Linked DNA regions of Homo sapiens: region 2 is linked to region 1. Evidence: fine-mapped expression QTL. A gene starts in region 1. The other region holds a variant in brackets. All regions are shown on one strand. Distances are between the middles of the regions.

Region 1 (8,823 bases):
GCTGAGGGTTGTGGGGCCGGGCTGACGAGCCCAGGACTGAGCTTGACCCCAAGCTTCCAGGGCCTCTGGTTGGAGAGTGGCAGACTGAGAGGAGAGAAGGAGGGGAGAGGCAGTGGACAGCCTCAGGCCAGGGCCGGAGGACCCTGAGGACAAAGGACAACCTGCCTGGCCACAGCTGTGGCCTCTCAATAAATCGTTCCCTCCAGTGCACTCCACTCAAAGCCACTGGGGGCTGCCGAACCCTCTGTTGAAACCTCAGAGAACGCGTGAGGCAAGGGCACAGCAGGAAAAGGCTCTGAGCTGCCACTGCTGAGCCTGAGGGCAGGGCAGGCCAGGAGGGCATAAGGAGGCCACACCTCACCCTCTGTGTAGGCAGCCTAGTGGGGAGCCCCGACCTCTCGCCCATGCCCCAGAAATGCACCACAATCCCACCATCTTGGCCAGGCTGGTGGGGTCCTGGGGGCAGGTACACAGGGCTGGGGCTGAGCCTCTCCAGATGGAGCGGAAGTGGTTTGCCTGTGCGATCCTTTCAAGATCAGCAGTCATCACTCAACCAATGTTTATCAAGGTCCTACCATGTGGCAGCCTGGAGCCACCCCACAGTCCCCACCCTTGCAGGGACAGCTTTGTCATGCGGGTAGCATAGTACATGTTTGAAGGTGCCCATGAAGGTTGGGGAGGGGTAGTGGTATAAGGGAAGGCTTCCCTGGGGAGGGAGATCTGAGCTCCAGGTTAGAAGTTTGGTAGAGGTTAGCCTGCAAAGGGGTCTGGGAGAGGATTCTAGGTCGGGAGTACAGAAGAGCTTGGAGGAGTAAAACGTGACTTCCGGGCTTCCAGTGTGGGTTGTTGACCTGATGGTGTTGTTACTGAATACAATTAAGACTATCAGGAAGGGCAGGGGGAATGAGCTGAGGAGGGTGAAAAGTGATGTGTGTACCTTGGGCTCTGCTGAATGTGAGGTTCCCGTTGTAGAGCTACCAAGTACCATTGGGAAGGTTGTGCACTGCACAACTCTAGAAGGCACCAATTGTGTTTTACCTTGAAAGACACAAATCTGAATTTAAAACCTCACATGATGTTTAGGAAAAGCTGCCCATAAGCACTGGGTATGTGTCTAGTAGGTAGAGACAGGGCTGGGAGTCATTGATGCAAAGGTAGGGATTGAAATTCTGAGGGCAGGAGGGCTCTCTCAAGGAGAGTGTGCAGCGTGAGATCTCTGAGCGTCGACAGCTGCTGGGGAGCACCCCCCACCTCCGGGGCAGGCAGAGGAGGAGGAGCACTTGAGGACAGCAGAGATAAGCCGTGCCCATGCAGGCCCAGCGGAGCGCAGTGCCACGGAAGTCAAGGACTGGGATAAAAGAAGACGGGGGCTTGTGTGTCCCAAGCAACAGGGTCTGGGGTGACAAGGCCAGGAATGTCTCCTGGATTGGGCATGAGGAGGGCTTTGGGAACCCTGTGGAAACAGACTTGGGAGGAGGTGGAAGCCCGGCTGGAGGGAAAGACTGAGAAGAGAGGTTCGGCGGGAGTGAGGACAGGTGGGGCCAAGTCCTGGGCAGGCAGATGAGGCTGTGTGCAGGCTGTTGTCTCTGGCAGCACCCAGGGCTTCTGCATAGATGGCCGCTGGGGCCCCCCTCCCTGAAGGCCTGGATTCCAGCCACCCCGACTTGGCCCTCAGCCCACTCCTGGAGTTGGCCCTCTCCTATCAGCTGGTGTGTGTTCTGGGGATGAAAATTGTTCTGAACATCTCCTGCAGCAACAGATAGCGTTACGGGCTGGCGGCGGGTGTAATGGTGAAAGTGCAGTCCAGGCTGACAGGAGTTCAAATCCCAGCACCTTCACTTCCTGGCCTTGTGAACTTGGGGAAGTCACCTGACCTCTCGGGGCCTCTGTTTCCTCAGCTGCAAAATAGGGATAAAAATAAGCCCCCACTGAATGGCTCTGCAAACTAACGGTGTCATTTGTGAAGCGCCCAGCTCCGTGCCAGGCAGGGAACAAGGAGAGCTATGCGGCTCGATGGGAAACGATGCTGCCTAATCCACTGGTCAGCAAAGGCTAAGCACAGGCACGGTGTGTCATTTAGGCTCCCTGTCCCCACTCCTGCTAAGACATGCAGTTGGCAGGTGGCTCTGTTGGTGGCCTGGCTATGGTGCTGGGCTCAAGCGGCTGGAGTAAACAGGATGGGGTCTGTAGCACCTACAGTCTAGAAGGCTCTGCTACCCACATGTATTGGAAATTTCCTTCCTAGGACCACCTGAGCTAGGGCCTAAAACACAGACACCCCAGAGAGGTTGCACAGTAATTTACATGTACACCAAGGTGCACATGACTGATACCGGGTTCTTTCCTGGAGCCGGTCTTAATGGCCGGCTAGAGAATCAAGGTTGGAAGGAGGCAGAAAGGTGTAGAAAGGGAAGACTGCGGCCACCAAAATCCATTTTTTTCCCCAGTTCCTGGACAAGCCACCTCCTGTGCGCATGAGACGTTCTGTGGGTTCAGAACTGCTTCCCCTTTTTGGAATGTCAAAATACGCATTTCCTGCCAAATGCTTCGGGGAGCTGCGATGCTGAGATAACCCGGCTCCTCCAGGCTGCCTCATCTCAGCGATTATCCTGAAGGAGCACCCGCCCTTCAGGTGTCCCAGAAGCTGCTTGTCAGGCCAGGAAGACAGCAGCCCTGATGATCAGTTCTTCCTAAAGCCATCCGGCTCCTGGGGAGAGGCAGGTGGGACTCCAGAACTCACAGAGCTTTTGGGAGGAGAAAGAGGAGGCCGGAGAAGCAAAGGGCTTTACAGCAAGAGAGTGGTCAGTCGCAGCCACTGGGGAAAAGCCCAGAGGGAGGGCAGGGGCGGGAGGAGTGGGCAGAGGATGGAGGCCCAGCCCGGGAAGAAAGTGGGAAAGGGTGACCGGGTTTTTGGGGTGGGGTTGAACGTGATGCTTACGTTTCCAGAGGAATCTTGGCCTGTCCCCACGCAGGGGACAGGGAGGTGCCTAGAAGCAGCAGCCACAGGAGGGCCGAGGTCTTCTGCACAAAGGCCCAGGCCACGGGCATTGGCTGGAGGGGAATCCAGCGGCTGCTGGAGCTGGGGTTTGCGAGGAAGTTGGGAGTTGCAGGCATGGTGGGCCTGGGGTTGGGGAGGGGAAGGAGGGCAGAGCAGCCACAGACCATGAGCTCTGTCTGCCTTCCTCCCAGACCCCAGGACGCCCCAGGCCTTTGTCTTCCGTGCCTTGGCGAGCCTGGGGTCTCCAGCCTCTCAGTCCTGGGTGGGGAGGGCTTCTCTCTGCCCCACAGCTGCAGCTCACAGAAGAGTCGCCCCACCTAGCAAGCAGGCCTCGGAGACAGGGACTGGGGGAGAGGCTGTGGCAACATGAAACCCTTTAATCCGCTGGCCTCTCCTCTAATCCTCTCCTGACAGCAGGGAGGGGGTGGCAGGGGGTGGGGAGCTGCCTCCCAAGATTACCACAACTGCAGCTGGTTCCCTCAGGGCTATAGTGCACCCCTCTGCTTTAAAGAGGCAGCCCCGTTCCTGTGGAACCACCTTCTGGACCCAGGAAGGGCTTGCTGTGACTATGGCCAGAGGACAGCAGCTGAGTTTGCACAGTACTCTGATTGACCCACAAATCTCTTGTTGACCCTGAGGTGGGGGTGTGTCCTCATCCCTGCTTGGCAGAGGCTCTTGAGGCCCGGGGAGTCCCAGGGGCAGAGCTGGGACTCTGGCTGGTGTTTCCAGGCCTGGTGCCTTTGGGACAGGTCATAGGTCATAGGTGAAGTCAGTGGACCCACGCCTCCACATCTCAGCTGCTCGTGGGCGGGGCTGGGGACGCATTTGCTGTGCAACTGATGAAGCTTCAGGACCCCTGAATCCACAGACTCCCCCCTTTCCCGGAGAGGCCCTAGCAATGTGTTCCTGTGGCCAAATGTTTTTGTAAAATATGCAAAAGTTGAGATAGTTTAACCATAACCGGTTGAGACTGTCTGTCTCTTTCCATCCCAACTTCTCTTCCGTCTGAGGGACTCTTAGTTGGATGATGTTTGGGTGGCTGAGGGCACTTGGGGGATCCAGTTAAGAGGAAAGTGAGCTGGGGAAACACTTAATCTGGGCTTAGTGGGATATGCTGACATGGTTCACAGTGACTTCTTTGTACAGAGAAGTTACCTCCAGCTGAGTGTAGGCAGGGCTTCCAGGAACACTCATCCCACAGGACATCCCACCAGCAGATGCAGCAAGAGAGGCTGGGCCGTGATGTGAGCGCACGCTGTCACACCCACCCTGGCCATGTGTGGTGGGGAGGGCAAAGTAACAGTCAGGAGCTCATCTGCAGAAAATCTACAAAAAGCCACACAGGTAACATCGTTGGTGGAGGATTTGGTTCTCACCAAGGCCTGGCCAGGACAGAAGTTCTCTCCTGTTAGGAAAATAGTGGATATTGAAAGAATATAATTACACCGTACATTGCTTTGTGTTCTGATGAGAGTTACACAAATTAGAATTGATCAAAATTCTTGTGTTGTGAGCCCAAACCAGTAGTAGTACCACATGGGTTCTCCGGGGGTGAAGTCATAGATTTTATGCAGTCCCCGTATCAGATTATTTTCTTAGTGTAACTGGTGCACTGTGTCTTCACAAAATCTGGTGGTTCCAGCAAAATGGTAAGCAAAATTGCCACCAACGCAGAGAAATGCTTGCAGAAGCAAGTGTTCTGATGACAAAACTCCTACACAGATTCATCAATAAGTCAGTGCTGTAGTATCAGAGTAATCTGGTGGCACAGTTTTGTGGCTGAATACAATGTATTTTTTAAAGGCATCTAAATGATTCCTATGAATGCCTTAATTTCACATAAATTTTGTACATGTTTTGAGGATTACAAATCAAACACATTTAGAAAAAATACTACAGAGGCACACTGGGCAGTCAATACATAAAAAGAATGTAACTTCTCTAGGTTTTGTGAATTTGGTGGAATTCACCAGCTTCTTAAAATTTGTAATTTGGAATGATTTTTAAAACTGAATAAATATTCACCTTTTTTCAACTTTTTTATTGTGGCCCAATATTTATTGTGGCATAAAATGTGCCATCTTAATCATCTTTTTAAGTGTACGGTTTAGTGTAATTAAATACATTAATCATGTTGCTCCACCTTCGCCGCCATCTATCTCTATAATTCGTTCATCTTGTAAAACTGAAACTCTGAACCCATTAAACACTAGCTCCCGTTCCCTCCTCCCCCAGCCGCTGGCGGCCACCACTCTCCTTTCTGTATCTCTGATGTTGACGGTTCTAGGGACCTCACAGAAGGGAAGTCATCACATAGTTGTCCTTCCATGACTGGCTCATTTCACTTAGCACAATGTCGGTAAGGTTCACCCACGGTGCCGCGTGTGTCAGAATTTCCTTACTTTTTGGGGGTGACCAATGATGGGTTAATATTTCATTGTGTGGATAGACCTCATTTTGTGCATCCGTTCCTCTATCGATGGACCCTGGGGTGGTGTCCTCCTTTTGGCTACTGTGAAATATGCTGCCGTCAACACGGGTGTGCAAATATCTCTCGAGATCCTGCTTTCGATAATAAATATTCACTTTTATTTTTATGTTTGTACCTGGGATTTGCATTATTTTTCTTTTATGGGTAACCACTCCCACATTATACAAGCTCCCACTGCCCCCACGGGGTTCCAGCACCCTGTCCGGAAAGCCTTCGCCTCCCTCTACTGTGTCAAGCGTGACAGCGGCTTGGAAAGCTCCGTCCTTCGCAGACACACTGGCGGCCTGTGTCCTGTGCGCCCCTTAGACATACTTAGGAAGCCTCAAAACCAGGCCTTCTCAGCCCAAGGCCACCGCCGGCCTCCAGGCGGCTGCCTCTGCCCACTTCCCCTTCAGGCTCCAGCGACGGCTTCCTTCCCTGACTGGTGGAGGAGGGGGTACAGCTGGGCTGCATCCTGCGTCCCCTACATCCACCCCTTTCCAAGGAGTCCTTTGGAAACCAGCTTTCCCACCTGTTTCCTGCGGGCCCCTGTCTGGTACCGGGCCTCCCCACCCTGCCTCTCATCATCTATTCTTAATGCAGCAACCGAAGGCTCTTTTCAAACGTAAGTCAGACCCTGTGGCTCCCTCCCTCTGCTCCGAAGCCCCCAGGGCTGCCCATCTCCCTTAGAGGAAAAGCCACAGTTTTGACCACAGCCACGAGGCCCTACCTGGCTGGAGCTGGCTTGATTTTAAAAATCATTCCAAATTACAAATTTTAAGAAGCTGATGAATGCCACCAAATTCACAGCCACGAGGCCCCACCTGGCTGGAGCTGGCTTGATTTTAAAAATCATTCCAAATTACAAATTTTAAGAAGCTGATGAATGCCACCAAATTCACAGCCACGAGGCCCCACCTGGCTGGAGCTGGCTTGATTTTAAAAATCATTCCAAATTACAAATTTTAAGAAGCTGATGAATGCCACCAAATTCACAGCCACGAGGCCCCACCTGGCTGGAGCTGGCTTGATTTTAAAAATCATTCCAAATTACAAATTTTAAGAAGCTGATGAATGCCACCAAATTCACAGCCACGAGGCCCCACCTGGCTGGAGCTGGCTTGATTTTAAAAATCATTCCAAATTACAAATTTTAAGAAGCTGATGAATGCCACCAAATTCACAGCCACGAGGCCCCACCTGGCTGGAGCTGGCTTGATTTTAAAAATCATTCCAAATTACAAATTTTAAGAAGCTGATGAATGCCACCAAATTCACAGCCACGAGGCCCCACCTGGCTGGAGCTGGCTTCTCCTGACCGCGCCTCTCTGGGCGCGGGCTCCCGCTGCTCCTTGGGTGCCTCAGGCGCGCCCCCCATCGGTGCGGCTGACCCCCGAGCTTGCAGTCCGCGCCGCGGCTGTGTCTGCCTGCTTCCCCCTGCGTGGCCGGCCCTCTCATTTCCATCAGTGTCTGGCGTCGGGTTTCCTGCAGGAAGAGCTGGTACCCCTGGATCGGGCAGCTTGAGACGAGTTTAACAGAGAGGCTATTTACAGAGGTGTGGACGGAGTCCTGCAGGGACACTGCAGTGGCCAGGGCTGGAAACCGCGGGAGCTAGCCCCTAAGCCTCGGGGAGGGGGACGGGGACGGGGACGGGAAAGCCACTGTACCCTGGAGAGAACAGGCTGTATGGGGGGGACTGTGGCCGCCAGGCAAGGGATGCGGCCAGCCACAGCAGTCCCGTGGGAGGGCTGGGGCCGTGGACACCCACTCACCCTCTGCCTCCCCCGCTCTCCTGCTGGTGCCTCCACCCGGGGAACCTTAGGGACTTATCCGCGTGCCCTCGCTCCCCCCCCAGGACAGCCCCCCAGGGCAGGGAGAGCACTCGGAGGGGCCAGCAGGAGGCGTCCGGCTCAAGGTCTTCAACGCCACCTTTTATGATGAAAGTGTCCTTGAATGAGAGAGTGGTGGGCAGTGACGCACGGCTTTGTGAATAGCCTGTCAAGCACCGAGCTGCAAACTTTAACATGGAGAATTTTACGGCATGTGAATTACTTCTCCATTAAAAAACCTTTTTTTTTTTTTTGAAAATCACCTTTTTAATGAGTGAAGACTTTCCTGGCTACAAGATCCACCATCTTGGCCCGACCCCTGACGTTCCCTGTCCTTCTTCACAGCATCTTTCTTCTCCTCAGTGGCTATCATGGGACGTGCCATATACAGGCCTCCTCCTCTAGCACGCAGCCTCCATAAGGGGCAGGGCCTGCGGGCTGTTTGTCCCTGCTGTATGCCCAGTCCCTCAGCACAAGGAAATAAAAATGTGATTGGAATGAAGGAGGGATTGAAAGGGGGGTGATTCTGGGTGGAGGTGAGGGCGCTTGGGCCAAGTCCTGCTTGTCTCCGCCTCCGCTCTCTGGGGCCTTTGAACAGGAGCCCCAGGGCCCCAGGGTCAGTTTGGAAACCCCCATGTAGCCAGGCAAAGGCTTTCATTTCCCGTTCATTTTACGAATGTGTCTCCGGCGGCTCATTTCATCTTCAAGTGACACAGGACATCACGAAGGCCTTCTGTGGTATTTGTACGCCACTATTCATTGCAGTGTGATTCACGACAGCAGAAGGTGGGAGCAACCCGGGTGTCCACCACGGATGGACATGGATCATGGATAAATCCAAGTGTCATCAAACAAACAAAACGTGGTATTGCACATGATGAACTATTAAGAGGAAGGAAATCCTGACACACGCTACAACATGGATGAACCTTGAGGACATTATGAGTGAAATAAGCCAGTCACAGAAAGACGAATACTGTATGATTCCATTGATACGTGGTTCTCAGATTCACAGAGACAGAAAGCAGAATGGTGGGTGCCCAGGGCTGGAGGAGGGAGCAGTGGGGAGTTAGTGTTTAGTGGGTGCAGAGCTTTGGTTCTGCAAGGTGAAAAGGGTTCTGGAGATGGAGGGTGGTGGTGGTTTCACAAGCGCATGAATGTATTTAGCACCACTGAGCTAAAACATGCTTACGATGGTACATTTTGAGTTACGTGTATTTTAGCACAATGTTTTAAAAGAAGAGAGAAAAAAGAGGTGTGTGGGGGGTGCTATAGAGCTGCCCGGGGCAAAACCAGGAGTCCAGAACCCTCCCAACTTCCTCATCCCCCAGAGACTGCTTCCCATTCTTCACACATCCATCGCTCCAAAATGCCAGTCTGGCTGGATTGCAGAGCTTTGAAAGGGAGAGTGCATTTCAGACTCCTAATGCCTTTCATCATGGCCCAGGCAATTTTTTTTTCTTTTTTTTGAGACGGAGTCTCACTCTGTCGCCCAGGCTGGAGTGCAGTGGCGCGATCTCGGCTCA
Region 2 (8,823 bases), 120 kb before region 1:
GTTTTGGGAAGTTCTTCAATAGCAGCAGTTTGGGGACATCACGTGTAGCCCTGTCGATATTTCCTGAATGGATTTCATTCCTTTCTCAGTCTTGACCATTCCCTTACCCAACCCCCACCCCAACACAGTCAAAACCTTTTCGAGCAGCAGCTAGGAAGGTGAGTGGCCTCCCACCATGAGCCTCACTTTGGGGAATCTATGCTTTAGTTGGGGCATATTCTTGCCTTAGCCTCATCTCTGCATTTGGCCTCATTCTGCTGCTGCTTCTCAGTACCCAGAAGTCCTTGGGTTCTACCAGAGACCACTCCGACAGAAAGGGTCAGAAACAACTGACCCTTTCTTGGCTGGGTCTGGACTCTGGAGTACAGGAAGAACTAAATTATTTTGTCTTGGTCCAAGCTGAGCTCACGCTGGCTTCCCGAAGAGGAGACAGGAAGGTTAGGTCAGAAGTATGCTCATGTTGAGACCTAGGGCAGATGGTACCGGGCACCATGAAGCATCTTGAAAGTGGTGCCAGGTGATTGGTTTCCTGTTCCATCCAGCATTCTCCGGAGCCAGGGGCCACCAGCCCAGGATTGAGAGGAGCGTTGGCCTGGGGGCGACCCAACTGCAGTTAGCTGCATCCCATGTCAGTGCTGACTTTTTGGGATGGCTCTGGAAGGATCACCTTGCCAAAACACAGGTCAGGCTGGGTGGTGTCACCGCAGGAGTTGGGGCAGTAGCCCCCAGGCACACACAGGCAGCAGGAGTAGGGGCGGCGAGGCTGAGGTGTCCGAGGCGCCGCCGCAGTCCTGGGCATTCTCCTGCGAACGCAGAGCAGAGGTGACAGCGCGGCGCTCAGAGGAGGACCCTCAAAAAGGGAGGGGCTTCCACCACTAATTTGGGCCAAAATCCTGGGGAAAGGGGAGTTTTGGAAAGCCGGGGAAGCACTGCTACCTCTCTTAGGCCCCTACCTTTTGGGGGAAAAGCAAAGGCTGGCCCCTCAGCCTGGGAGGGGGGCACCGGCCTTCTCTGCTTGCCCTCAGGCTTGGAGTGGCTGCGAGGTCATCCTCTCAGAATGTCCTCAACTCTGGGAGCATCTCTGATGGGGGTTTCTGGTCCCAGCAGACCAGACTGTATGAAGCACCCGGCTCAGGGCCTGACACCTGGGTCTGGGTTCTGGATCCGTACCAGCCACTATGACTATTATCCACGTGACGGCCCCCTCACATTGCTCGATCATTCGGAACTAAGTGTAGCGGGAATGAGGACAAGATGGGAAAACTGCATTCTAATTCACCTAGGGCCCAAGCCCTAGGAAGCGTGGCTCTTCGTTAAAGCACCTTGGGATCCTGGTTGACTTCGTATTTTAATGACACAGGGGCTCTGCTGTGCTTTCACACCAGCACTTCAACAAATGTGAAGGGTTTTTCCCACCCCACTCTCTGGACACCAACTGGGTGTCTGTCCTGAAACTCAATTCAAGTCTGACACTATTGAGAGTTAGCATTAGAGCTCGCAAGTTACAGGGCTCGGTCCCACAAGGTGGCCGTCACTTCAGATGCCAATCGCAAGCCCCAGGTCTCCTGTCCTTCTGACAGACTGGCTGTAAATCTAGGGTTCCCATGAGCCTGTCTCAGGCTCCGTGAGTTGTTAGCGTGGCTCACTCAACTCAGGAAGGTGCTTCCCTCACCATGACCCGTTTATTATAAAGGACGCAGGTCAGGCGGCTGAGTGGAAGAGACACGTAGGCCAAGGCACGGGGTACGCAGAGCTCCCACACCCTTTCACCAATTCGGACACTCTCCAAACACAGTGGCTCGGGGATTTTATGGAGGCCTCATTATGATCATTGATTAAATCTTTGGCCACTGGTGATCAACTCAGTCTCCAGCCCCCTTCCTTTCCCAGAAGCCAGGGGCTTGGAGCCAAAAGTCCCAACCCTCTAATCCTAACTTGGTGTTTCCTGTGGCCAGCTCTCATCCTGTCTAGGGCCCCCAGCCACCAGTCATCTAATTAGCATACAAAGATACCTCTATCATTCCAAGGGTCTTAGAGGCACCTGTGAAGGAACCAGGGACTAAGACCAAACACTATAACAAAAGATGCACCTATCACCCTAATCAGGAAATAACAAGCGTTTTAGGAGCTTGCCAGGAATCAGGACAAAGACTAAATAAAGATCTGTTTCTTATTATATCACAGTGTCACAGGGCATAAACGCGAATGTTTCCCCCGAGAAGCACAGGCACAGGTGTGTTCATTGGCATCCCTATATGCTCCTGTCTGCAGGGGCACAGACCCAGGCACAGAGGGTTTGGGGATGAAAATCCAGCCCACCCTCGATCCGCCTCAACCCGCACCTCTGGATGGAAGGCGTGGCAGGAGTCTGGTCGCCGGCGGAGCTTCTGGGAGCGCATCCGGTCACATTTGACAGAGGCATTATGTGCAGAAGCCACTGTTAAGGTCAATATCTCAGGACCGGAGCCCATTCTGCAGACTGGAAAAAGGTCTGGAAGAACCTGCTCTGGTGCCACCAGTTGCCCTGCAAGCAGCTTTAGGGTCAGGAGGCAGCACCGGGGCCCAGGGAAGGGTTAGAGAACAAATAACGGAGCCCTGTGGAGGACACGGGCGGTGAAGGAGGCTGGCCCCGCTGCTCAAAATCTGAGCCCTACAGACACCTCCTACAGCCCCCGCCCCCACCGCACACATCCCCGAGCATTGCAGGATATATTTGACTTCTGTCGCCTCCTGCAGCACTGGTGGGAAGATGCTGCAGTCACAGGTGGGGTCTGTCACCAGGAGGAGGAGGTTACTGTTGGGAATCTGCTGCACCACAAATACCCTGCAGCAAAGAAAGGGAGTCGAGGATGGCTCCGTGGCGACCACGAGAAGGGCTTCTAGGGAAGGAACTTCTGGAGACTTTAGTGTGGAGTTAGGGTGGCAGGGAAGCCCGGAACCATGAGGCAGGGCGGGTCGGGGCAGCTAAGGGAACGGGCCTGGCAGATGGCTCAGTCCTACTGGCTTTGCTCACAAGCCTTTGCTGCTGCATTTCCTTTCCTAGCAGACTGGAGACAGTGAGGAAGTCCAAACTGGGCCGCTTTGGAGAGTGCAGAGTTGCTATTAATATATGCAGGGACGACAGGCGTAAATCAAGACCGTCCGGAGCAAATGGGCGGGCGAGGCAACACTTGCTCTGGGTGAGGGTGGCGGGGGCAGGCCCGGGCGAAGCGGCAGCGCTGGAGCTTGGCCACCAGGTGGCGCAGTGGCCCCGCGCTCGGCGAGGCCGCCCTGCGAGGAGTGGCGCGGAGTGGGGCGGAGCCCGCCCGCCAGGCCCACGGCCTTCCCAGCAGTCCCAGCGGCCGCCTACCGAGCGCCTCCCCTGGGATGGGCGGTCTCACACACCCAACGTGCACACCACAGCCGTGTATACTCTCAGCCTTCACGGCTCTGTATGAGGCTGGTGTTGTGCCCATTTTGCAGATGAGAGAATGGAGACTAGAGGAGGCGAAGTCACTTGCCCACGGTCATAAGCGGGGGAGCGCAGAGCCAGTTTTCAATTCAGGAGTGTCTACTCTGAAGCCCTCGCTTCACTCCGGAGCCCGCTGGCTCTATCCTCGCACCGAGCCTTTGCGACAAGTGCACAGGGAACGCTAACCCCAGCCCTCAACGCTGCACAGAACCCGGGGTGAAACCCGCGCAGCACGACGCGCAGGGAGTGGGGGAGAAGGGAGCCCCGATGCCAGCGCCGCAGGTGCCGCACTGTTAAATGGTGTGCCACGGGCCCGGGGGTCTAGGGACCGCCTGGCGAGCGGCACGTCTGGCTGAGGCGACCCTCGAGGAGGCCGCCGCATTCCCAGCGTGGGGGTCCTCCCGGGCTTGGGTGCGGGGGGTCAGCAGGAGAGACCCTTCCGCGCGGCCTCCCTGCCTCCCCGGGGCCAGGGCGGGTTATAACTAGCGGCTTCCACACAGCAGGAAGCCTGACAGAGGCTGCCCGCGGGGCTCCCAGCGACCCGAGGACATCGCACACTTCCGGCCTTCTCTTCTCACACTCCCTCTGCCTTCCAAGTTCTCCCCACGCAGCTCAGGCGCGGGCACTGGCACCGCCCTGGGCACCGCCTGAGCAGGGCTGGGGGAGACCCGCCGAAGGGCCCACTCGCCCAGAGACGCCGTGGGGTCACGGCTGCGGCCTCGGCGGGGTGGGCTCGACACACAGGGTCAGGCCTCGGGACCACCTCTCCCCATCCCGGCTGTCCCGGTCCCCAGCCGTCCTGCC[C/A]GCCTCAGACCGTCCGCCTCCTGCGTGTCTCCTCCACTGAGGACGGCGGGGGAAGACCCCGGGAGCGTGGGCTCTGCACTTAGACGCATCCCCTCCTCCCGGCTGTGGAGCCGTTTCCCGGGGGTTCCGGGGCCCTGCCCGCACTTCCGCCTTGCCGAGGGCGGGAGGAGTGTGGCGGGACGGGCGGCGCCGCCCTGCGGTCTTACTTCTGGCAGGGCCCGCACTCCACGATCCCGTTGGCCTCCCGGATGGCCGGCTGGTACACGAACACGGGGTACTCCGTGTCGCAGGGCTGCAGCGGGTCCTGCTTCTTGTGTTTGTGGGCTGCGGGCGGAGAAAGGACATCACGCCACCGAAGGGGCCTCTGGCCTGCGGTGACCTCGCCTCGGCACTCCCAGGGCCAGAGTTCACCCCAGTGCATTTGCAGAGGGTCCCTCCTCAGGCAGTTCTCAGGACACGCGTGGGAGGAGCCGGGCGGGGGGTGAGGGGAGGGAAGACACCCGGAGTCTCTGGAGAGGGTGGCTTGGCACGGGGAGCGCCGCAGGGGCCCTGAGCCTCGGTGGAGGGAAAGCGCTTCCTCTGGGGAGCCTGGCCCTCACTGAGCTGGGGGCAGTGCACCATCTCCAGGGCCCCTTCCAGCACTCAGATCCCGGGGGAGGGTCTGAGCGGGGAGCAGAGGCAGTAGGGGCACCAAGGGGTGGCTTGGGGGTACTTAGGCCCACCACCCCTCCCTTCACTGTGGACAGACGCAGTGCAGTTCCTGGGCAATCCTGCCCTGCTCTCCCGCACAGCCAGGCCCACACTCCACCCATTGAGCCTGAGCGCCTGCGGTGGGGGCAGCCGGGCAGGTGGGCTCCAGGCCTGGGGCTGCGGAAGCCCAGAAGCCACAGCCACCCGGTGCGGGACTCCTCGGGGGCTGCGCGATTTGCCTTAGCTCCCTGGGACAAGGACAGTGGACTCAACCAAAGGTGGAGGCGAGTGCCTCAGCCCCGCTCTGCAGGACCCGAGTCCGTTCCCTCCCGGAGCCTCCTGAGGTGGGCACATGGCAGAGCAGGGCCCTGCCACACAGGCTGTCTGCATGGCCCTTCTGTTCTCAGGGCCTGGCTGTGGCCCCCAGGGATAGACCTAGAGGCAGGGAGCACAGGTGTGAGCTACCTTCCCAGGCTCATGCAGAGTCCTACAGGAGAGCATGGGTCTCCCCAGCTTCCAAATCCAGAAGCTCCCAGCCAGAGCTGGAAACCCAGAGGGGACACTAGCTGGCGTGCAGAAAACTCTCACCGAGAGGAGCAAGCCCACAGCGGCCAGGGCTGTGAGTTTTGTCCCCAGGGCTGGGCACAGAAGCCTGCCTGACAATGGCAGGGTTGAGTGGCGTCCCCAGGGTCACGCAGTGGAAGGGGCTGCAGCACCTACGCCCCGGCCTGGGACTCCAAGTCCAGTGCGCCTTCACTGGGGACACTGACATCTGTGTAGGCCAGACCAGGGGGAGGAGCTCCAGGGGACAGGTACCCCAGAGAAGAGAAATTCTGAGCAGGCAGATTGAGGGGGATCATCTTCAACTTTTGCAAGATGCAGCTGCTGACAGAGACAGAGGGGACAGTGTCCTGTCACTGACACCTAGTGACTGTGAACACCCCAGAGCAGCCCCACCCGATCGCGGATGTGAGTCCAGAAGGAGTCTGGAGACACAGCCCGAACTGCCCTGAGCCCAGGGGCAGAGGAAGCCCCAAGCCAAGGCCAGCAGAAGAGAACGAAGAGCAAGCCAGAGAGAGGACCACAGTGGAGATGAAGAGATGGGATAAGCTGGGGACAGCCCAGGTGGTGGGAAGTTCTGGAACCCCATGGCAAAGGTTCTAGGAACACGGAGGAACTGAGCAGAGCCCGCTGAGGCAAGATGGCCTCCTGCAGTCATGGAGGGCCCAGGCGCCCGGGCAGTGAGTGCTTTGAAAGGCCAGGCTCATTGCCGCCCTGCACGTGTGGCCACAGCCACCGGGCTTTGTGTTGGGGCCTCTCATGGTTGCTGCCTCTGGGGGACTCTGTCCTCAGACACAGGGTCCCGCAGGGGAATCATCCTGAGAGCTTCCTGGGGCCCCTGGAACCCGGAGTCCCGCTGAGGGCTGGGGTGCCGCTGTTTGCTTCTCCAAGGGGTGGGCTGGAGGTTGCTCACTCATACTGGCTCATGGCCACCCGGCCACACCACCGGCTTCCTCTTGGAATCTTACGTGTTCTCACCCAAGGGGAGGCTGGAGTTTCTCATTTTCCCTGGGGCCTGACCGTCCTCATGTGGGATGAGAACTGGGCTAGACTCCCCAGTCCCCCAACCCCCAGGAATGGTACTTTAAACCAGGAGAGCTCAGCCCTGCTTGGGGTCATTCCTGGGACAGGTCATGGAGGGTGGGTTCTTTGTAGCTCCTGCTGCGTCCCCAACCCACCGCCAGCAGGGATGGCCTCAGCTGGGCTACTTACAGTGATGGAAGACACTTTTGGCTGGCCGGAACATAAGCCCAGCACAGGGTGGACACGGCACAGGAAAACATGGTGGCACATGAGGGCAGGATGTCATGGGGTGGTGATGATGGCACATGGAGTGGCGGTGTCCCAAGATGATGTCACACACAGAGCCAGGAGTGAGGGATGTGATGAGAGAAGGCCACGCAGGGTGAGATGTGAACAACGATGCTTCAGGGTCACCTATCCCCACTGTCACCCACCCCACAGGGAATGGTCTCACGTTAGTGGACCAAAATGCCACTGCTCTTCAGCACATGGCCCTGCAGCTCCGTGCACTCACCCTCGGCCCCTCTGTCGTACCAGGAGCCCCAGACACTCCACTCCAGCAGGAACCTGTCAGACACAGGACTGAATCTCGGAGACCTCTGAGCCCTCCCGACTTGGGTTCCCAAGGAGCTGGAGTATCCCTGACAGCCCCCGGCCCATCCCCTCTCCTCCAGGACACCCTCTTCCCTGCTTGAGGGCTCTGGTTGAGCAATGAGGTCCCTCCCAGGGGCAGCATGCAGGGAAGAGGTGGCGTCCATGCCCAGGGATTGTGCCCTCCTTCCCCGGGGTCTGGTAGCAAGTGGGTTGTCCTGGAGACCTTGCAGCCTCCTGCTCAAGGACACCCTCCTAAGCCACCCTCGCATGCAGCCCTCCACCAGCCCCGTGTCTACCCCCACTCACAGCACCAGCTCCTGCAGCAGCCACCTGGTCGCCGTCAAGAAGGCAGAAATTGGCTGGGAAGGAGAGAGTGCACACCGCTCGCACCTAGGTCCAAGGGTGAGGGTGCCCCCCCCCCACCACCAGCACCACCCTCAGAGAGACCAGAGAGTGGGCTGCCCTGCCACTGGGAGCAGGGGCAGCAGAGCACAGGCCAGCAGCCCAGCACCCCCCATCCCCCCACCTCCCACCTGCCCTGCAGAGCTGAGCTAGCTGGGAAATGCCTATTGCAGGTCAGACATCTCGGGTGGGGTTGGACATGCCCCTCCAGGAGACGAGTCAAGCCCTCATCCTGGTGCTGCACTGCTGAGGATCCCTGGTGATCAAGCGGCAGTGTCAGGGGCTGAGGCTGGGGCAGGCTGCTCTCTCTGTCTCCGCCAGAGGCACTGTTGTGTCACAACTACCAGAGCAGTCCCTCTGAAGCCCCAAAGCCAGACCCAGAGGCCTGCCTGGGAGTGGGACTGAGAGCAGTGGCTCTGAGCAGAAGATGGAGATGGTCAAGGTAGGGCCCTGGGGCCAGACACCCAAGGTGGGTGAGAACAGGGACCAGTGACCTCATTCCAGGACAGGGCAGAGGACTGGCTGGCTGGCTGGCAGAGGGAAGGGCTGGGTGACACTCACGCTGACCAGGGGCTGGGCTGCACTGTGGTGGTGACTCGAGGGTTTGCACATGGCCTGATAGTCATACATAGTCACTCTGAAAATCAGAAGCGGGCTGTGATGAGTCCAAAGCCACCCCCACCCCCTGCCCCTGCCTCAGGAGGCTTTACTAGCAGAGCATCCGTTTACCGCAATTCCCAAGGGCGCCTGAGCTAGGACAGCAGATCAGAATACAGCTCATGCTGAAAATTACATTTCTGCACTTGGAATGGTTTAAAGACAATGAAGAGCAAATGGCTTTTGCCCTCGGAGTTGGACGGTTTTCCCTCTAGGGTCTGAGCTGCGGAGCCCCTCCCAGGGATGCCCACATGCCCTTACGCCCTCCCCACATCATGCTGACGCCCTGGCTCCATAAAGGTTGCTTTTGCAGCTCTTTGGGGGCACCCACTGTGGGTTTTGGAGGTCAGGATCCTGAGATCCGCCAGGACCACTTAGCGTCAGCTCTCGGTTTGCTGTGTCTATTTGGACTGGGGAGGAGTGTGCCCCACTTACTGGCTGAACACCCCCATGCTGAGCAGCTGGGTCAGGACAGCACCATCCACCTCCCCCAGAAATCTTCCCGTCTGTGAGAGAGGGACAGCAGAGAGAGAGGGAGGGAGAGAGATGGAGCAGGATGGAGCCTTCCGAGTCCAGCACTATTTATTCAGCTCAGGTCGAGGCTTTTGGTGCCAGTTGGGCTTTCCCTCTGACTGCCTCTC

The links.
Region 2: its variant is fine-mapped to the expression of CACNA2D4 in unexposed skin (GTEx, PIP above 0.99).

What each region holds. Positions count from the first base shown.
Region 1 is chr12:1,915,309-1,924,131 of GRCh38, forward strand. It overlaps CACNA2D4 (calcium voltage-gated channel auxiliary subunit alpha2delta 4), which reads right to left and starts at 3,344. Exons shown (of 38, transcript NM_172364.5): 1 at 2,939-3,344. The coding sequence starts at 3,165. RefSeq lists an enhancer at 1,417-1,993.
Region 2 is chr12:1,792,957-1,801,779 of GRCh38, forward strand. It overlaps CACNA2D4 (calcium voltage-gated channel auxiliary subunit alpha2delta 4), which reads right to left. Exons shown (of 38, transcript NM_172364.5): 30 at 8,618-8,688; 31 at 8,087-8,162; 32 at 7,430-7,482; 33 at 7,044-7,096; 34 at 6,719-6,739; 35 at 4,462-4,579; 36 at 2,712-2,824; 37 at 2,343-2,425; 38 at 1-803. The coding sequence ends at 699. It overlaps LOC105369602 (a long non-coding RNA gene), which reads left to right and starts at 7,483. Exons shown (of 4, transcript XR_931549.3): 1 at 7,483-7,967. RefSeq lists enhancers at 2,591-3,158, 3,270-4,175, 4,176-5,080 and silencers at 3,119-3,448, 3,789-3,918, 4,019-4,248. The variant C/A (reference allele first, on the strand shown) is at 4,256.